Linked DNA regions of Homo sapiens. The protein of the gene in region 3 interacts with the protein of the main gene of each other region in a biochemical or structural test. Each region holds a gene or a part of one and is shown on either strand. Other genes may lie near its edges.

Region 1 (7,000 bases), on a different chromosome or scaffold from region 3:
ATTGTTTCCCATACTGATTAATCCAGGCAGCTAACTCATTGGTTTATGCAACTTTATTGAAGAAAAATAAATCAATTACTAGCAGAGCTATTAGTTGATCACTCATCCATTGACAACTTGCATCATTTATTCAGTGCTATATTAAACAGTGTATTGGAAGATAGATTAACTAATAGCTCCAAGCCTCCTAACAATTTAAATGAAAATTACAAAATGTTTGAGACCCTATTTTGGAATACAAAGGGTGTTTGACTTCCAATTTCCATTCTCTGTAGAACAAGAACAGGTCATTCCTTTATTGACATGCATAAAATACATCACATTTTCTGTTCTGCTGATGCTATAAATTCAATACCAATTCTCCAGCCACATCAGTTATGAGCATAAAGCATATCATGTAACCTCAAATCTCTAACAGTGGAAGGCTTAAACAAGAATGGATGCTGCTAGAATAATGCTGTATCCTTTGATGTGACAACTGAGCATCCATCTCCCTCCCCCTCAGATGATTTCTTCAGCATGTTAGAGCAGTGAGGAATGGTTTTAGTCTCATAACCAAGTTAGAGTGAAGACATTGGCCACATAATACACATGCTCCATTTTTTTTTTTAAAAATTCTGAGTCTTGGGCAACTGTTCTCTTGTAACTACTTTACAGTTTCTAAAAGCAGTTATTGTCCAAAGCTGGAAGAACTTAAGTCTTCTCAGATGAGCATGTGAATGAATGGAGGGAGGTAAACAAAAAATAAAATTAAAAAAGATGAGGTCTGATAGGGGAGCAGCCGGATAAGAAAATCAAAAAAGGAACAGTAATTTAAAGTTTATTCCAGCTATAATGCAGGTTATTCTGACTTTAAGGTAGCATCACATGGCATACTTCTGAGTCCATTCCCGAGATATTCTGTTGTACCTGTAAATAAAGATGTTATTTTTAAAAGTTAAAATAAAGAATTCCTAATACTTTAAATGGAAGGGAAAGATTTCCATTTTATCATCTCCAGACTCATCATGAAGTCATCTCTAATGACTATGATTAGAATAAAAGCCAACAAGGGAGAAATAGCACTGGTACTCAAAGCAATGTGGGAAATGAGAGCCTGATGCTCTGAAAGTAGTATTTTAAAAACAACTAAGAAAGCAGCACTGAAAATTGGGAGGCTAACAAAAATCAAAAGACCCTTTCTTTCTCTACCACCGAGCTCATGCTCTAATTTTAACGTGAAGAAATTTTTACAGTTCATTATGGACAAATGTTAAAATAGTATACACATTCTATCTATCCACAGAAATTTCCACCAAGGCCAGAACTAGGCTTTTACTAGAACAATTTTATCTGAATCCTAGAGTTTGGGAAATTACTTGGTCCTGGATATTACAAGAAAAAATGGCTTTGGGACTTAGGTAGAGGCAGAAGGGGAAGATGACACTGGGCAGAATGACAAAGGGCAGTAATTTTCAAAAGGGGTGTGTGTGTGAGTGGTTGTGTTCATCAGAATCACGTGTTACTTTTAATAAGTGTGGTAACTGAGGCTAATAAGCACCACTGAGACCTGTTGAGTACAACAAGGGCATCTTCGTTTAAAAAGATCAACAGGTAATTCACACACAAGCAAGGTTATTACTCAGGAAGACTACTAACATTGATAAATACTATCAGCTTCCCCCTGGATTATACTCATGCCATAGACTACTTACAACAACAAAAAACAGTGATAACCTTAAGAAATGAATATATATATATATATATGCACAGGAGAATTTTTATATTGTTTAAATATTAACTAGCTTTATTTCAAACCAAGAACCAAATATGGTCCAACAACTTTCCTAAACTTTTTAAAAAGTTCTTTCTACCAATTCATTGTCATCTCCTAAGGATACTCTCTCAAAAAGCCAGCACTTTAAAACAAAGGCTTTATTTAGCATACAGGGAGCCACAAAGTACAGCTGACGCTAATGCATGCTTGTCAGTAATGAACATTTAGTTTAGATGCTTAGGCTTAAAAGTGTTTTTCCCTTACATTACTATCTCCCGGCAAAATTTGAACTAAACCACCACATTCTGTATAGGATTGGTACAAAGTCTCAAGCTAAAATTTAAACACCATGATAGTTTGAAAAAAAAAAAAGATACTACATAAATTCCCATTTCTTACTAGTGCTATTGTAACTGCTTTGCCATGCAGTACTTTCAAGCAATAACGGCTACCAGATATTTACTTTCACGTTAAACAGAGACCAAGCAGTTAAATGTACAGTTTTCAGAAGACTGCCATATTTGTTACCTTTTGTTAGTTAATACAGTGCCTTAACGCATGCAGCACTCAAGTGCTGGCAGTACCATAATAAGCGCACCATAGAGTGCAGATCCTCTTACCCTACAACATAGCGTATTTCTCTGTCCACTCTCTTGCTAACCTATTGTACCTAATTGAACAAGTACACTTAGCATTAATTATAACATATGAAAGTTATAATGGTTAAGTTGAACATAAATATAATTCAAATATTTGAGAAATTTAGACCAAATTTTTACAATAGTACTAACATTTTTGGAAAAACATGCTTGGGGTAAAGAAAAATTTGCTTTCTTCCCCAAAAGTTGAGAATAAAGTGATACTGTTTAACACGCTAGGAAAAAAAAAACAACAATAAAACATTTTAGAGGGGAGCATTCACTGTCACATAAGCTAAAGCCTAGTTAAGTTTTTTTAAATAACCACATTTCAATAGCTTTCTCCATATTTTAACTATTATCTTACTAAATATCAAGTCTTCTTGGCACTGTCACAAGCAAAGTATAAGCCTAACTCATTAAGTAAAACCACTTTTATAATAACTTTTTAACATACTTACTTATCTCTGTCTGTTTTATAGATCCGTGCAATCTCTGGCACTAGGGGGTCATCTGGGTTTGGATCACATAGCAGTGAACAAATGGATAAAAGAACTGCAAGAAAACAAAAACATCTGTTACCCAGTTTCAGGAGTTTGGATAAATAAATTTTTCTAAACCGTGTATTACAAAACTCAATCCTCAAAAGACTTTTATTAGTTTGTATCTTTATCTCAATGAGACACAGTTTTACAGAGATTTTGTTTCACAGAAGACAAGCTCCTGGTAAGTAAGAAGTGCTAAAAACAGGGTTTTGTGGCATGAAATTCACTGCAGACTAGCCATAAAAATAGTTTCTAAGATAGGCAACTGATGCCATATTAATATATATATTTTAAATAGGCATAAATGATATTAGAACTTGAGTTTCTTGGTACTCAGTGGCTGGGGGGGGGGGGACTTTAGCAAGAATATGCAGGTAACACTCATGCCATATTCATAGCCATTAGGCATGATGAAAAATCCATTCTTAGCCGTTGTCTTGGCAATTTCTGAGAAAAACCCTCAAGTGCTCCACTAAATGTCTCCTTGAACTTGTAAGCAAGAAACCATATTCCCAAGAGTACTAGTTAAATACAATGCCAAAATCTCTTTAGTACTAAGTGAGTCATCAGCTCTAGTTTTTACCTTAACCAGTTCAACATACTGATGTATAAGATGTCAAGCATTAAGGAACATAGATCGCATTCACTTTGAGTGCCTGCTATGTGCCAGTCACCATATATGGTGGTGCTGTTATAAAATGTTAAGATATAAATGCTTGAAATGGTTCTGACCGATTTTTTTTTAAAAAAAGCAATAGTATAAAAAAGACAACACTGTCACATATTTATTGACTACAGCAAATTTAATTTCAAACCCCAAATACAGCAGAATATAAAATTACCTAATATAGGAGACTTGGCTATACAATAACTCACAGAAAAAAGGTAGCTTCAGTTGTGACTGCTAGTTTAATAAGTTAGCAAAGTATGGCTGCCAAAAAAGTAAGTTGCTTTAACGACAAAACAATACCAATTCAATCTGCCCTTACAAAAACAGTTTTCAGTGTTACTGTACACTCCCAGCAGTAGTAGAAAAACTTGGAAACTGATATTTAGGTATGTAGCATGATTTGAAAAGAAATTAGAAAGCATCCAAGAAGGTGAAAAACAGGTGTAAAATTTTAAAAACACTCGAATTATGGCAGCATCTGCCTAAGTTGTTTCTTTTTCTCCCTTAAGTGATTCTACTCAATAAAGTTTGGGAAATGCTACTGCTACAGTCTCTCTCCATGAGATTCAAGTGCAGTATATACACATATGAAACTTTTATACAATGCCTTGCCTTTTGAAAAAGCTTTTTTGTACTTACTGAACTCATAAAATCAAAAAACAATTAATGGTGAAATAGTGTTAATTATTACAACTTCACCTGGGATATTCATGCGGAGACCGGAAAACTTGTTACATATAACGTAACAGATACCTATTAAGAGACCAGAATTGATCTACAGATCTTTCGAAGATTATATAATTTTAGACTGTCATTAGGTAGAAACAACCTATCATGGTTACATAAAACATGACTGAAGATTTGTCTAAAAATTAACCCAGGAAAGCAAAATCAGAATTTTCCTAGAGTGGAAACCTCAGGATTCAAAAGCTCTATTAAGTTTAGGTATATCATACCATTCTTGGTAAAAAGGCCGCAAGTTAGTGTGAGATGTCCAAGTGGTTTGGGATTGAAAAATACAGAAGTCTATTAAAATAAATTTTGCTATTATAAGATGAGATGAAGGTAACTCATTAGGCAAATAATGCCTACTCACCACAATTTGAATTTTAACAACTTCTCACAAAGTATCTTTAATCAACACCACTAAAAGAACAAAAATTATAAAAGTAACTTTATTGCTTCCCCATCTCTTACCAAAAAGCTGCCATAATAAAAATACTCAGATAAGTAGATCTAAGAATGAAGCTTTATTAGACAATGAGAACAGCTTATTTCACTAGAAATATTTACCTTTAGAAATTGTTAAAGCAGGCGACCACTGTGATCTTAGAATATCGAGACAAATGCTGCCATTACTGTTAATATTTGGATGATAAATTCTTGTTGTAAATGCAACCTAAAACAAAAACTTTTAAGTATTTTATTCAAATAAAAACAAACATCTTTTAAAGCAAAACTTAAAATAATCAAGCCACAATGTTAAAAATGTCATCTATTAGCATAGAAGTTCTAAATATTATAGAAACTGATTTTTACAATCTGACCACAACCCCCTGCCTCCTCTTTTTACAACAGAAACCTAAACTTTTGGATAAAAATTTCATTACTCATATGATGTAAAGTTCTAAAGGTTACTGTGGCCCTACCATATCATGAATCAAAGGGCAATTTAAAGGTATTTAACACATTCATTTATAAAAGCCCTAACTTTTGGATGTAACCAAAATTTGTAGACCATCTCATTTAAAGTTTCATTAAGTTACACAGGTACACCTGAGTCTGCATTTCCACCGTACATAAAACATAAACTTGAATCACAAAAATGGAAACCATCACATTGCACCTATAACATTACTAGAGATTGTTATAGTGACATGTTTATGACCTTTGTATATTACCTTTTCTAGTTATTCATACAGGTTGAATTTATGTTAATGACTGAAAAGTGAAGGATAATATGCTTTTAATACCTATAAACCAGTGCACTAAGCAACTCTAAGTTTTCACAAATTTACACTTACGTATACAAAACTATAAGCATAATAAGCATATGCTGTAACAATACGTGCAAATATAAATTGAAGTTGGACATTTGATGCTTACAAGACAACAAAAGCCCAAAAATCAGAATCTGTGTAACAATAATACAGATGAGGGCGGAAGCTTCCACATGGTCTGAATCTTGCAACATTAAAGAAAAGGCAAACCTTATTCCTATTTACAAAGCTCAAACTGAGGTCTAGCTCTTTAAACCAAAGGTTAAGAGTCAGCATCTATACATGAGTGCAATTCAACATATATATACAGCCTACACAGAACCCTATCTTCCAAGAATGCTCTATTCCTTTGAAATAAAGCATAAATCTATACTAACAGATTTTGAGGGAAAATACTTGCCTTAGGTGGTTTGAAGGGGTAGTCTGTAGGAAAATGAATTGTCAAAAAGAATACACCGCCTTGATATGGGCTGTCATTCTGTAAAAAGAAAAGTATGCTTAACTCAAATTTAAAATATTATTGCTAAATATTCCGTAACATTTGTTTCCAAGCATTTCTCTAATAATGAACCCAAATCACCTATTTACACTGCAATAAATAATCTATTCCATGAAAATTCAGTCTATAGTAATAGAAAAAAACTTAAAACTTATACAGTAATAAACCCTAATTTATCTAGTCATTTTACACGTCACCAAAATGTTTTTTTAAAAAGTTATCCAGAAACGCAAGTATTCTAGATCTCAATTCTCAAAAGTACAACACAGCAATAAAGCCTACATAATCATGTTTCAGAATAATCTGTAAACAAAATTTTACACATGTAGATTATTTCTTCCAATAGCCAGATGTGTACAAATGGCTTCACAACAGTCCATTCTGCCCACTGGCAAACCAAATGTTAGCTATTCCAGGTAACACACACACACCACCTTCAAGAGGAGAACAGAGAAAAGCCTAAGCTTCTCATTTTAATCAATACCAGAAAATACATGCATTGCCCCTATTTTATGCATGAGAAAAATGAGGCTTAAAGAACTTAGTCTAGTGTACAAATGGTAAATGATAGAACCAAGATTCAAACACAAGTCTTTTGAAGACCACTTAATGATCAAAGATACTGACCTACTCAGGAATTTAAAGTTAAAATGTGGAATGCCTAACTGCTTCTGGGTATGCAAAGAACCAATCCGAAGACATGTTTTACAACTTACATGAACTGGGTTTTTACCAACACTGACTCCCCTCTATTAGAAAGGCTTTGTATATACAGCTATATATGAGCCTTTCACTATGCCCATTCTGGATGTCAGGCACATAAAAAACAGGCCTGACACTAACACAGCTCATCTAATTCCTACCCTTCTGTAAAATAAATAAACATTAATTC
Region 2 (7,886 bases), on a different chromosome or scaffold from region 3:
CCCCAAATATATTCATGTACACCAGGGATATCTAGCAAAATATAAAAATGCAAATTACCAAAAGCAAGTATCCTGGCTTGAGCACGTGAGGCCAAAACGTGAATGAGGATCAGAGAGCCTAGAGGATTGAGGTGGGGCGCAGTATTAAGGAAGGGCCCGTCCCAAGTGGGCAGAGTAGATGTCAGGTTCCAGGAAAACCGCACAGGGCTAATCAGTGAGGGTCAGTCAGGCCTCCTGAGAAGCTGTACAATCAAACCAAACCTATAAAAATGAGAACAATCTTGCAGAGGCACCTTGCCACTTAAGACCTCCACACTATTTTTTAAAAGTCACTCCTTCATCAGCCCATGGTTAGGTCACCAAAACACTGCCAAGTTTTCAAATTACAAGTCAGGGAGAATGACAGAACAAACTCTCAAACCCTGACTTCCAGGCTCACTACTCAGTGGAGAGATCTAAAGTCTCATGTTCTACTTTATTTTAAAAATTTTTAAGAAGGGTATCCCTATCCCATCATTTGGAGTTCTTACTATCTTCCTGGTTTGCCACCTTTTTAACAACTGCCTAACTCTGAGAGCAGAAGGATTTATGAAAGGGTGTCTCAGAGCTCCTAGGAATCCACTAAAGATGATTTTGAGGGTCATGGCGATCAGAGGATATTACTGAAGGATGGCAGGGGTAAAAAGTAGCTACCTCCAGAGGCTTAAGAGGAAAAGAATAAAGAAAAAGGGTGACCGCTTAGGATGGCAGGGATAAAAAGTAGCTACCTTCAGGGCCTTAAGAGGAAAAGAATAAAGTAAAAGGGAGACCACTTAAATTGAAAAAATAAGGCAAAGTAACATTTTCACAGCATGAGGACAGCAAATAGCATGAAAAAAAGACAAGTCTCCCTGAAATTGGTAAACTGAAGTTTTTAAAGAGAACCACAAAAATAACCTAGAATAACCATTTTATAGTCACTTACTGATTCATTCATTTGCCTCAACTCTCAGAAAAATCTCTTTAAATTCCACCAGAAAACATCTGTCTTCACCTACTAAATTTTGTACCTGCTAATATGAGTTTCTTATTCCTTATGCAATTTGTGAAGAAAGCTCTATTTAGAAAAGATCATCCATGCAACAGGTGAGGAGAAGGTAAAATGGTCACAGAATTCATTTTGATGCAGTTCTCTGGGCTGGTATTAGTAATTAAGAAATGGGATCATGGCCTTGGGGAAGGTCACAGATTAACCATTAGTAGGACAAGAAATCTGAAATCAGATTTGGGGGTCACTAATAAAAGTAACGAGGAATCTTACAAACTTCAGCAAGAAATGCGAGAGGCAAGCCGCAACAGCTGCATGTGAGCAATGATTTAAAAACAGAAGCAGCAATAGAGAAAATAATTAGGGCTTCCAAGGCCCTTCTTTCATTTTTAAGAACACATAAACCATGAGGAGCGTTTAAGCTATCCTCATTGGGAGGCAGACCAAATGCAGCAAGAGGCAGTTCGGAAATAGGAAGCCTGTGGAAAAAAAAAAGAGCACAGTACCTCTTGGCGCTGGTGGAGAGGAGTTTGGAGTTTTTGCTCATGCTGACTTTACTCTCCTTCTTCTTGGGGGTGTTTGTTTCTTTCTCGGTTTGCTGGTTGGAAGACGAAGATGAGGAGGAGCTGGTGCTGGCCCTCGAATCGTCATCCGACATAGCGAACCCCCCACCCCACCCCGCAAACAGCCCCTGCAGGGGGAGAGAAACAAAACAGAAACACACAAACCATGCAGCCAGTGTAAATAAGGAACTCGGGTGCTGTCAGGAGGGCATTGACCAGGGGCGCACGCGGCCGCCCACCGCCCTCCACTCGCTTTTCAAAGTCTGCAGGCCCATTAAGGCTTTTGCAAATCGGACGCGGCTTGTTTATTTTTGGCCCCAAGTGGGGAACGCTGTGGGAAAACGGTCTGGAGCTAGGAGAGAGGCCCCTCCCTCGCCCCCCGGGGCTCTCCGCTGGGCAGGGAGGGAGTAGCCCGGGAGGCGAAGGAGGGCAGGGCGGGGGGCGCGGGGCGCCACGGCGGGGCAGGGAGGGAAGGTCCCGGCGGCCGGCCGGCCTCGGGGCTGTTTTTGTCCGCTTTCCGGGGGTCGTGAGGGGCCGGTGGCCCGGGTGAGACTGTGGGGCCACGAGCGGAGTTTGGCGAGGTCGGGAAGAGAGGAGGGGCGGGAAGGAGTAAGAGAGGAAGCCGAAACAGGGGGACGGAGGCGGGGAGCGGGTGCCCGGGTGGGGGAAGGGAGAGGCCGGCGGGGGGCAGGGGCGACGAGGCCCGAGGCCCCCCCGCGCCGCGCCCCGACGCCCCTCCCGGCCTGCCTGCCTCTGGCCGCCCTGCTCACAGCTATGCGGCCGGGCGGGGGTCCGGAGCACACGCCCGATCGCCACTCCTGTAGGGGGATAGGGGCTGCGGCGGGGAATGGGGGGGTCGGCCTCCGCAGCGAAGACATAACAATGAGCCCTTCCGCCCCGGAGGGGTTAATCCCCGCGAACCCCCGCCCCTGGGGAAAACGGGGCTCCCCCAACTCCCTCCCACCCCCGCTCCCGGGCCCCTCGGTGGCCAGTGGGGGGCTCTTGGGGCAGCGCTGACAGTTCGAGCCACAATGACCCCCGTCCTCAATGCGGGCGGCCCCCGCACCCCACGCGGCCCGGGGTCCCTGCCCATCCCCCGCGGGCGGGCCCCGGACCCCTGGGGCTCCCCAGCCCCTCTCCGCTCCCCCCCCGCGCCGGCCCCGTGCCCTGCGGCCCGGCGGCCCCGGCGGCGCGAGTCGGGGGAGGCGGCGAGGGGTGTCCCCGAGGCCCGGCGGCGCGGCCGGGGGGCGGCGGGCCGCTGGGGGGATCCCCGTACCTCTCTTTGTGTCTGGCTCCTCCGTGCCGCCGCGGCGGCTGCTGCTGCGGCTGCGGCTGGGCCTGGCCACTCGTGTCTCTCTCTCGCTGGGAGAGAAGCGGAAGTGCAGCAACAGCAACTATTAAACAGGCAATGGCTTCCCCCAGCCACACACGCTCGCACACACACCACTCCTCCGCCGCCGCCTCCTCCTCCTCCTCCTCCTCGCCCTCACCCCTCCCCCACCCGGCCCGGTCCCACCCACCCGCGCTCCCCTCCCCCTGCAACACCTCCTGGGGGTGCGCGAGGAAGACCCAGGAGACCCCAGGAAACCCTGTCCCCCACAGACACCCCCACCCCAGCGCCTCCTCCGGACGCCCGGGAAGGGGGCGAGGGTTGTGAATTTTCTCTTAAGTGGTTTGGGAACCTGGATTCTGGGCGGGAGAGGGGAAGCCGATGGAGATGGGGGGCGCTGGGAGTGATTGGAACTAGATGGAATAGGGGGGTCACGAGAGAAAGTTCTTTCCAATGAGGGCTTTTGGAAAGGAGAGGAGTAGGGAGGTGGCAAATTGGTGAAAACGTTGGTAATCTGGTGGTGGCAAAGACTTTAGAGAATGCAGCGGGTACTCCACCTAAAAAGCGATTAAAGAGAAAAAAAAAATCACACAACAAGGGTTTTCTTTGGACTGACACTTGCTTCTCCTTCTAGCAATTTACCTGCTAGGAGCAGAGGTCAGTTTAGGTATGCCTGTGAGAAAATCCCAAACTAGGAATTTTCTGCTCAGGTCACGCGAGGCACGTGCAGTTTTACAATATTAGATTCTTCCACTCACTTTTTATAGAAAGTGATGTGGTTTTTTATAAGAGTGATACAAAGGTTTTGGTGACAGGTAAAACCAACGTGTAACGGGCTTGCGAATGTGAGACATCACTGGGAATAAGCTATATACTACTGAATTAGACTGGATTTAGAATTTTTTGTGTCATTTTACATTAGATGTAAGGTTTGGTTTTTGGAAATTGGATGCAAAGTTCTGGGGATCGCAGAATCCCCAGATCGCTAAATTGACCAAATTATTTTTAAAATATTAAGCCATTTTTCTCTTTCTTTAGCTACCTATAAATGCTATGCAAATAATATTTTTGAAATGATCAGCAATTCTTCTGAATTGTTCCTTATTTAGCATTTTTGCCAATTTTTTTTTAATATTAAGCCATCAAATTACGATTCAGTTTCTCACCTTTTGTCATTTCAGTTGAAGGGAACTAAAGAGATGTGTGCCATTCAAATACAACAGTGCCACACATACAAGGTCTTGTACATTAAGGAGACAGCCTCAGATTTCCATAGGTCACTCTAAATTATCTCATTCAAACTGCCATCATTTTCCACAGCAACAGTGGCTTCAGTTACCACAGGACAACACAAGATATACAGCCCATGGCATATCCAGTAACCAGGAAAACAAGCATTCTCACGACCCAGCCGAACTCCTTCTAACCATCAACCTGAAATTCCAGCTTTATCAAGACTCATAAAGTAATTGTGCATGCTTCTTGCTCAATCCCTACCAGGAAACCTGTATCTACCAGGAGTTGTCATAGAATAAGAAGTTCAAAAGCTGGAAGAAATCTTCAGGGTCATAATTTCAGCCTCCTGCTTCCAGACAGAACTATTTCTCCACCACTGAAATGCATATAGATTTTGAAAAAATTTCCAGACATAACCTTTCTTAAGTGTTTGGTTTCAGGAGTCCTGGTAGAGTATATAAAAATGATGACATTCTTTGCTATATATTTGAAAAAATTTTTTAAACTTCTGAAAAACTGATTGTATTCTTTTTGTTCTGATGAAAAGATGTAAATTCAGAAGAAAACAATAAGAAGATGAAATAAACTCAGGATGAGGAAAATAATCTAAAAATAGTTATTAAAATTGAAATTTCCTCCTATGAAAATTTGGATTTCTGATACTTAAAAATATATGTCTACATTATGAATACAACCAGTAAAAAAATCATGTGTTATAAAGACAAGAACTAGCAGAGATCACAGGAAAATAAAAGGTTTGATTTGCTGAAGTGATCAGGACAGTAGGTGAATTTTTTCTTTAATATTGGTTTGCATAAATTGCCTACCAGCTATAATAAGAATTCTTTTGTAACAGAACATGATATTTTGTGTTGTGTTACTGATGCTTGGGTTGGACTGATTCCTTGTGAAAGAAATCATGAAATCTAACAGCTCCTCCTATAAGGAAAAGTGATTTCCCAACCACCTGTCTGGAAGGTTTCTTGCCCTCTTTTGTGTACTGTTCCCCCTAATCTCTAATTCCAGCTAGCTTAAGTTAGTGCTTTATCGTTTTGGAATGACCTGATGACAGGGAATAAAAACTTCAAAATGTTTAGAAAAGAATCCAGTCCTCTCAAAAGACTAATCTTTATGTCGAATTATTTTTAAGACCTGTATGCAGCTGTCTTAGGGGAAAAAAAATTCATACACAACTTTCTATCTCTCCTTCTTATTAACTACAAGGCCTAAAAAGCTAAATTGACCTCCCTGAGCCTCAGTTCCCTCATCCATAAAGGGCAGAAATACCTGTGCTCTACTGACTGGCAAGGTCAAATATGTATCTGTAAGTAAGGTGATTTATTAGCTGTTACGCAAAGTAAATTATTAATAATTCCACTCTAGTGGAATTTTCTTAGTTCATGGGTTTGGGGTTATTTGTTGCTTTTATGTTTTTGTTTTTCGTCACCAGGGCAGAAAAGAGGACATGGGGTTTTTATAACTTAGAATTGATGAAAATATAAGAAACCTTCCAGGAGAAACATATACTCAAGGAATCATAGTATTTTATGCCTAGAAGGGGCCTAAGATATCTTCTAGTTCACACTCTTCATGTTACAGATAAAGAAATCAAAGCAAAGAAAGTTATGTTGGCCGGTATGTTGGCCGGGCGTGGTGGCTCATGCCTGTAATCCCAGCACTTTGAGAGGCCAAAGCAGGTGGAACACGAGGTCAGGAGATTGAGACCATCCTGGCCAAGATGGTGAAACCCCGTCTCTACTAAAAATACAAAAATTATCTAGGCTTGGTGACATGTGCCTGGAATCCCAGCTACTCGGGAGGCTGAGGCAAGAGAATCTCTTGAACCAGCGAGTCTTGATTGGAGGTTGCAGTGAGCCGAGATCGCGCCACTGCACTTCAGCCTGGGGACAGAGCAAGACTCTGTCTCAAAAAAAAAAAAAAAAAAAAAAAAAAAAAAGCCAGTATGTCTTATCCAAGGTCATGCAGTAAGTTGGTGGCAAAATTGTTGTTATGACCCATGCTATCCACAGATGATCTTGTCAGTTCTGGCAATATTGGAGTGGGAGAAGAGCCTCAATTACATTGCAGAAAAATGTATTAAATATAAAAGGGCCGGGTGCAGTGGCTCACGCCTGTAATTCCAGCACTTTGGGAGGCCAAGGCAGGCAGACTCCTTGAGCCCAGGAGTTCAAGACCAGCCTGGGCAACATGGCAAGACTGTCTCTACAAAAAATGCAAAAATTAGCCAGGCCTGGTGGCACATGCCTGTGGTCCCAGATACTTGGGAGGTTGAGGTGGGAGAATCACCTGAGCCCCAGAGGTTGAGGCTGCAGTGAGCTGTGATTGTGCCACTGTACTCCAACCTGGGTGGTGGGAGTGAGACCCTGTCTCAAAATAAGTAAATAAATAAAATAAATATAGTAGTCTCTGATAATATTTTCGAGAATATATTAACAATCAAGACAGCTGGGAAAGTGGGAACATGGAAGCAAGCTAAGGGAATCACTGAATTTGTAACATGGTTGCTTGAACTAATGACTGCTATTGAAGTTCCCCAACCCCACCCTCATCCTGAGAATAGTCCTCATTATTTATTTATTTTGCCTATATGGATATATTTTAAATAGATAATACATTTTCATGCTATATTATTCTAAAGAAACCAGAGAGTATGCCACGAAAATATCTTTCTGCCCCTTCCCCCACCCCTAATTTCCTTTGGAGAAAGCAGTTTTCGGTTGTAGTCTATGCATGTGTAAAGCAAATGCATACATATGCACTGAATGCTTTGATAGTAATGCTCAATTTACATTTTAGAAAACCAGCCAGTCACAGAAGCCCAAGTAGTATTACACTGTGACATCCTGTGGACTTTGAGAAAGTGGGCTCCAGTTTTTATTAATACCTATTCCTGGTTTTCAGAATGACCCAACTCTCCTTCAAGTCATCTTTAGTGTATCAAGTACATTTAAGTAGAAACACTTGAAGATCAAGGTGCTAGTTGATCCCTAGGAGGTGAAATAATACAGTTGAAAGAGGGAGACTTGGTTTAACTTTTTGACTTGTTGCTTACACTGAAATTCAAGTATTTCATAAAGATTCTCTTTGGCCAATTTCATGTCCAAAGAATTGTCAAGCAAGTTAACGTTGGTTAATATAGTTTTTTAACTTACCTTATTGCTGAATAGAAAGGATTTCCTTTGCTGGGCGTGGTGGCTCACACTGGTAATCCCAGCACTTTGGGAGGCTGAGGTGGGCGGATCACCTGAGGTCAGGAGTTTGAGACCACCCTGGCCAACATGGTGAAACCCCGTCTCTACTAAAAATACAAAAATTAGCTGGGTGTGGTGATGAGTGCCTGTAATCCCAGCTACTCGGGAGGCTGAGGCAGGAGAATCTCTTGAACCCAGGAGACAGAGGTTGCAGTGAGCCGAGATCATGCCATTGCACTCCAGCCTTGGTGACAGAGTGAGACTCCATAAAAAAAAAAAAGAAAAAGAAAAGATTTCCTTTTTCCATCCAAAGAAAAAAAAATCTTGTGTTTGCAACTTATAAAGAATTTATATAAAGCCTTTCTGGGAAAAATGGACTCACTGGATTTCAATCGACTTGTTTCATTTTATAATTCTCCTTTGGCTGAAAAATCCATTCCTTGTAAGAAAGATAAGGAAAGTTCAAAAACAAGGGTCGATTCCATAAAGACGAATGTGATCTGGGGCATTTACCTTCA
Region 3 (7,103 bases):
TCAAAAGTAATTTCTAATATAGTTCAGTAGTTAATGTCTAAATTTTTAAAATTCAAATTTTCCCCATTTTTAATACCAAAATAATTGCTTTGTTAATGCTCTCTTAAAAAACAGAAGAATCCTTCAGCCTTCCAAGTAGAAACACACTTTAAAATTTATTATTTTTTGGCCAGGTGCTTTGGCCCACGCCTGTAATCCCAGCAGTTTGGGAGGCTGAGGCGGACAGATCACTTAAGGCCAGGAGTTCAAGACCAGCCCAGTCAACATGGTGAAATCCCGTCTCTACTAAAAATACAAAAATTAGCCAGGTGTGGCGTCAGGCGCCCATAATCCCAGCCACTCAGGAGGCTGAGGGACGAGAATTGCTTGAACCCGGGAGGTGGAGGTTGCAGTGAGCCAAGATCACACCACTGCACTCCAATCTGGATGACAGAGCAAGACTCTATCTCAAAAAAAAAAAAAAAAAATCTAAATACACATAAAAAAAATTATGGTGGTAAAGGCTGCACAACAATATGAATGTACTTAATGTCCCTAAACTTAGAAATGGTTAAAACGGCAAATTTTATGTTATACATATATTTTGCCACAGTTTAAAAAAATTATTTAAATCTCTTTTACTTTTTTTTTGAGACAGAGTCTTGCTATGTTGCCCAGGCTGGTGTGCAGTAGCGTGATCTCTGCTCATTGCAATCTCCACCTTCCGGGTTCAAGTGATCCTCGTGCCCCAGCCTCCCAAGTGGCTGGGACTACAGGTGTGTGCCACTATGCCCAGCTGATTTTTTTGTATATTTTGGTAGAGATGGGGTTTCGCCATGCTGGTCAGGCCGGTCTCAAAACTCCTGGCCTAAAGTGATCTGACTGCCTCAGCCTCCCAAAGTGCTGGGATTACAGGTGTGAGCCACCGTGCCCAGCCTATTTCTCTATCATTTAATTTTACAAGTCCTATTTTGTCATTGACTTTTACTATACATGCTAAAACAAGCATTTTCAAATACTTTTTGCAGCAACCTACCTTAAGAAATACATATAACATTGTAACCCAGGACAACATACACACTCTTCCTGAACCTATGAATAAAAGTCAGATCCTTTAGCAGAAGGAATATTTGTTATGGTAAACTCCTATGCAACAAATAACATCTGATATAGCTGCCACCTAATACATATTCATTAAATGAATAAATATATAAAAGGTTGATGGAGTCATTGCCTGCAGGGCCCCCCTTCCTCCTGGCTCTTAAAAAAAAAAAAGCCATTCTGTGTTGTGGTTCTCCCAAAAAAACTGGACTGAACATATCTATCCTCAGCCTTGCCCCTAGAAGGCTTTCTCCTTAATTTTTAACACATATTCTACAACAAGCTGAGTTCTATCTATTTACATAAAGGTTAAGAAGTACACTAAGTGATCATTTAAAAATATAGTCTTGACAATTTTCTAAATATCCAGTCACTATATAATGAATATATACAAATAAACCTCTAGCATTATTACTAGGTAGTGCCTAATATTTATATCACTTAATTCTGTGTCAAAACAACTCTATAATCTCAATGGCTTAACACAACAAAGATTTATTTTTTGCATCATGCAACATCTCAGGGATTAGGGAAGACAAGAGAGACTCTGTTCCCCACTGACCACAAACAGGGACACAGCCTACCGAGCCTCCAACCATCTGGACCACCTCACTGCAGCAAGGAGAAGAATTTACTTTGAAAATCATAAACCTTCTCTTATTAACTTCTACCTGGATGCTAACACTTCACTTCTGCTTACATTTCACTGATCAATGAACATCACACAGTGATGCGTAAGAGGGCAAGGAAGTGTAATTTCACCATATGAGCAGAAGAAAATCAGGAATATTGCTGAATGGTATTAATAACTACTCATATTCTTCTTGGACTAGAGAGAAATTCTGATTCAGGATTCAGAGAAGTCAGAGAGGAGGATGGATGTATTCAGTCTAGTTCCCTGTCATAAATTTCTAGTTTTGTTAAACATTGAGGATAGTAACTCTTCACATTGTGGTATTAATGTAGAGAAGGTAAAGTGCTCTTCAAAAAGGTAGAAGAGCCAGGTGTGGTGGCTCATGCCTGTAATCCCAGCACTTTGGGAGGCTGAGGTGGATCACTTGAGGTCAGGAGTTCGAGACCAGCCAGGCCAACATGGTGAAACCCCATCTCTACTAAAAATACACAAATTAGTCAGGCGTGGTGGCAGGTGCCTGTAATCCCAGCTACTCAGGAGGCTGAGGCAGGAGAATCGCTTGAACCCCAGAGGTGAAGGCTGCAGTGAGCTGAGATCGCGCCACAGCACTCCAGCCTGGGTGACGGAGTAACACTCTGCTTTAAAAAAAAAAAAAAAAAAAAAAGTAGAAGAAAGGTTCTATTCTCTATTTGAAAAACATTACTATTTCTTTAAGCATAGTTTTTTTGTTTGTTTGTCTGAGACCAAGTTTTGCTCTTGTTGCCCAGGCTGGAGGGCAATGGCGTGATCTAGGCTCACTGCAACCTCCATCTCCCAGGCTCAAGCGATTCTCCTGCCTCAGCCTCCCAAGTAGCTGGGATTACAGGCATCCACCACCATGCCTAGCTAATTTTTACATTTTTAGAAGAAAAGGGGTCTCACCATTTTGGCCAGGCTGGCCTTGAACTCCTGACTTCAGGTGATCCACCCATCTTAGCCTTGCAAAGTTCTGGATTACAGGTATGAGCCACCTCACCTGGCCTAAGTATAGTTTTATATAAAGAAATAGTATGATATATGCATATTTCACATAATAAAAGACCAAATAAAAGTACAGAGACTTTCCCAATCCCTATTATTTCTTGGCTACTGGTAAGTTAATGCTATCTATAATGTTATTACTGTCTATTAGTTGTCAGGCAAATAGACTATTTATATACATCAAAGATCACCAAAACCTTAAAAATCCTTTTCTTTCTCCAGAAAATATTTTAAAACCATGTTTCTTAGCATTTCAAAGTCTTCCAGCCTAAAATTATAGGTACTCTTGCTTCCTTTTTTGGTGGATAAATTATTTTGAATGTGTTCCACTTGAAAAATAGTATGAATATATTAAAACTGTCTTAGATAGTGCAACTGACCTGGAAAAAAAATGGCAACCTTAAACTCTTTTGGAGAAAACTCCCTTATCAAAAAGAGTAAACTTACAGAACTTACGTTTGTAAAATAACTGTTCAAATGTTAGTAAATGCTATTATTTCCAAATCTGGTATCTGAAAATAACTTAGTTTGAAATACGTAAAGAAAAGTTTTAAAAGTATACAGAAAACTGCAAAAAAAAGCCACAAACCCTTCAAACTCATTTTAACAGAAAATAAAGAGTAATTATCACAAGCTACAAACACTTCTGTCCTTGATATTAGTAAATAAAAACATGGTGAGACTCAAATGACTTATCTGTATTTTCATTATTGGCTTATTTATTTGTAAAGAAAACATTGTTCTATTGGGTTTATGGCTTCAGGCAAATGATTCACTCTGTGATACACATTCTTATTTATTTGAATCAGGGTAGCACGTTTTTCTCAGGTGTCTTAAAGCTCTTTACAGATAAGTATTGAATATAAACATCTCAGAAGATAAAATAAAATTAGTAACTAAGAGTGAGATAGTTTATAGCTTGAAGATTATTGACCTTAATAGAAACTTAGGCTTTCTGAAACTTTCTGGGAATTTTATCATTCTAAAAATCAAGTGGAAGGACATTGTTTCCTATGACATTTGCATTACATGAACAATTTTCAATCTTAAATCCATACAAATACTTTTCCTACCTAGGTCTGTTACTTGTCGATCAAATGGGCAACGGATTGCTCTTCCATGAAGAGGTAGGCGAGTGAGACAGTCATGACAGACGGTATGGCCACAAAGCAAAAGACGGGGAACTTTGTCTCCTTGCAAAGAAAAGACATCTTCACAAACTCCACACTCTAGCACCTAATATTTGAAAAGGAAGGATGTGCTCTTTAAACAATTTTAAAAGCATACATATTTTAGGTATATAAGAAAATTCACCTAATATATTGAATCAACATTGTTACTTTATTCCTCTATGAAAAAAAAACTATGTAGGTTGTAAAATCTTGAATCACTTTTAAGTCATTCCATTTGACCGACCCTGTCAAAATTATATCATAATGAAATATCTTTGAAATACTAAGTGTTGGGGCAAAGATGCTGTAAATTAACATCTTTGTTATCTTTTGAAAATTATGATTTCAGTCATTACATCTGAATCTGTACAAACAATATGTAATTCTACTGAAGGTGGGTTCTTAAGCAATTTCTCTGCAACTACCTAACCCATCATTAATTTCAACACAAATAAACTATCATTAATTTCAACAAAAATAATCTAAAATATGTACTGAGATAACAATTACCCCTGCAAATGATAAAGAACTTGTTAAGAAAAGACTGCAAGTAACTTTCAAGTATCTTCTACTATCTAATGTACATTAAATAATACAAAGGCAAAAAAAGCAATCATCTTAAATTTCAATTCCTGTTCTCTATCAATAAATATAGCTCTGAATTAGAAACTAGTTTGTCTTTCTAGCTCTAGTTACAGACACATGACTTGCACAAGGCTACACAGTCAGTCAAAAGAAAGGCCATTTATCAGCATATTCTGATTCTCAAGTCCATAAGTTTATGTTTTACAAATAGTCAACAAATTGTATTTATAGCAATAAAGCATTTTCAGCACTTATTTCTAAGTATATTTGTAGTGTTTCATACCTTGCATTAATTTTTTAAAAATACCCACACTGTACTATTCAATCATACCTCAAACTCCTGTCATTCAAGACCTGCTACAATCTGGTCCCTGTCCTATTGCTTCACTGCCATACTCTTCTGACCCTATGCTCCAACTATATCCAACAGCTTATAGTTCTCAGAACATGAGAAACTGTTTCATGTCTCTTCATGCTAACACTGAGGAAAGGACTATACTTGTCCTTTGGGCCCCGATGTACTCTGTATAAGCGTCTACCGTAACACCCAAAACACTTTAATACCTTGGTCTTTTAGCCCGTCTTTCCCTGTTGGACCAAAGAACCCTCAGGAACTGGGTATTTTAAATACCAAGTACCTACTGCTTACATAAAGTCCAGTAAAATAATTTAAAAACAATTAAGCTCACCATCATCAAACACACAACACGAGGTAAAAAACAGAAAACCCAAGGCAGAAATCAGACTAAATCTACTATGATTTTAAACCTAACTCTACAATTAACTTGGACTTAGTGCTTGAGATGCAAATATCTTTCACCATACAGTGATAATTCATAATTGCTTTGCATCTTATCATGGTTCAAAAGAAATTTAAATTTAGTCCTTCAATGTAAATAAGGGTTTGGGAAGATAAAAATGAATAAAAATAAGAAACATAACATTGTTCAGAGAAAAGAAGATGAAAATTCTTTACGTGAAAAGATGTTCAATCTAACTCATAATAAGAAAAATGCAAATTAAAGCTAGGCATGGTGGTTCATGCCTGTAATCCCAACACTTTGGGAGGCCGAGGCGAGTGGATCATCTGAGGTCAGGAGTTCGAGACCAGCCTGGACAACATGGTGAAATCCCATCTCTACTAAAAATACAAAAAAATTAGCCAGGCATAGTGGTGGGCGCCTGTAAGCCCAGTTTACTCAGGAGGCTGAGGCAGGATAATTGCTTGAGCCTGGGAGGCGGAGGTTGCAGTGAGCCAAGATCACGCCACCGCACTCCAGCCTAGGTGACAGAATGACACTCGGTCTCAAAAAAATAAAGAAAGAAAAATGCAAATTAAAGCTACATCAAAATACTTTTTTCAGATTAGATCAAAAATGTTGGTAACATTTTGTTAGTGAAGGTGTGGGAAAGCAGACACTCTCATACATTACTAATTGCTATGAAATGTTTATTGAGCAATACAGCTTCTATGGAGGGCAACTTGACAATACTTACCAAATTTAAATAACTCAGTAATTCTAGTTGCAGGAATTTATCCTACAAGCATACTAGACACGTGTGACAAAATCTGTATGTTACTCCTTAAAGCATCATTTGCATTAGCAAAAAATTGGAAAGAAAGTAAATATACATCAATATCAGCTTGGAAAATAAATTGTGGCACATTCATAATACTATAAAACTATATAGGATAGTGAGAAAGATGAAGTTTTTCATATATACACAGAATGATTTCATATGATTAAAACAAAAAGAAAAATAATAGAATATATTCATTTTTGCATAAAGGTGGGGAAAGAGCAAATTTTTTTTGTATTGTTGTATAAGCGTATTGTCTTCCTGGAAGGATACATAGGACACCAGTAACATTGGAACACTGGTTCCCCATGAAAAAGGCAAACAACTGGGGAACAGCTATCCACGTATAATTCTGTCTATTATTCATATATACACATACTTCAATTTATCCTACATTTTTTAAAAAGGGGAAAGTTTCACGTTATCAAATTCTTTAGGCCAGGCACTGTGGCTCACACCTGTAATCACAGCACTTTGGGACACCAAGGCAAGAGGACTGCTTGAGGCCAGGAGTTCAAGACCAGCCTGGGCAACACAGCGAGACCCTGTCTCTACAAAAAAAAATCAAAAACTGAGGTGGGAGGATCATTTGAGCCCAGGAGGTCGAGGTTGCTATGAGCCATGATCGTGCCATTGCACTCCCACCTGGGTGACAGAGTGAGAACCTGCCTCAAAAAAAAAAAATTCAATTAAATATAGAAAAAATATTCATAGGCTGGGTGCGGTGGCTCACGCCTGTAATCTCAGCACTTTGGGAGGCCAAGGCGGGCAGATCACGAGGTCAGGAGATTGAGACCATCCTGGCTAACGTGGTGAAATCCCATCTCTACCAAAAATACAAAAAATTAGCCAGGCGCGGTGGCGGGCACCTGTAGTCCCAGCTACTCGGGAGGCTGAGGCAGGAGAATGGTATGAACCTAAGAGGCGGAGCTTGCAGTGAGCCAAGATTGTGCCACTGCCCTCCAGCCTGGGCGACAGAGTGAGGCTCTGTCTCAAAAATTCACAATAGAATTTGATATAAAATAAATGCA

What was found. Proteins that work in one complex are often made in the same cells at the same time.
Region 1: the proteins of TRIM23 (region 3) and UBE2D3 form a complex in vitro, tested with the Homo sapiens proteins (4 studies listed by BioGRID).
Region 2: the proteins of TRIM23 (region 3) and UBE2E1 form a complex in vitro, tested with the Homo sapiens proteins (4 studies listed by BioGRID, with this or other methods).

What each region holds. Positions count from the first base shown.
Region 1 is NC_000004.12:102,796,552-102,803,551, forward strand, and holds part of UBE2D3 (ubiquitin-conjugating enzyme E2 D3), read right to left. Parts: intron 6,088-7,000; coding exon 6,010-6,087; intron 5,009-6,009; coding exon 4,903-5,008; intron 3,025-4,902; exon of another isoform or gene 2,950-3,024; coding exon 2,856-2,949; intron 2,427-2,855; coding exon of another isoform or gene 2,378-2,426; exon of another isoform or gene 2,377-2,377; intron 910-2,376; coding exon 864-909; 3' UTR 1-863. UniProt on the Homo sapiens protein: Accepts ubiquitin from the E1 complex and catalyzes its covalent attachment to other proteins. In vitro catalyzes 'Lys-11'-, as well as 'Lys-48'-linked polyubiquitination.
Region 2 is NC_000003.12:23,801,069-23,808,954, reverse strand, and holds the start of UBE2E1 (ubiquitin-conjugating enzyme E2 E1), read right to left. Parts: upstream 3,001-7,886; 5' UTR 2,867-3,000; intron 2,137-2,866; exon of another isoform or gene 2,050-2,136; intron 1,719-2,049; 5' UTR 1,686-1,718; coding exon 1,534-1,685; intron 1-1,533. UniProt on the Homo sapiens protein: Accepts ubiquitin from the E1 complex and catalyzes its covalent attachment to other proteins. Catalyzes the covalent attachment of ISG15 to other proteins. Mediates the selective degradation of short-lived and abnormal proteins.
Region 3 is NC_000005.10:65,614,286-65,621,388, forward strand, and holds part of TRIM23 (E3 ubiquitin-protein ligase TRIM23), read right to left. Parts: intron 3,971-7,103; coding exon 3,808-3,970; intron 1-3,807.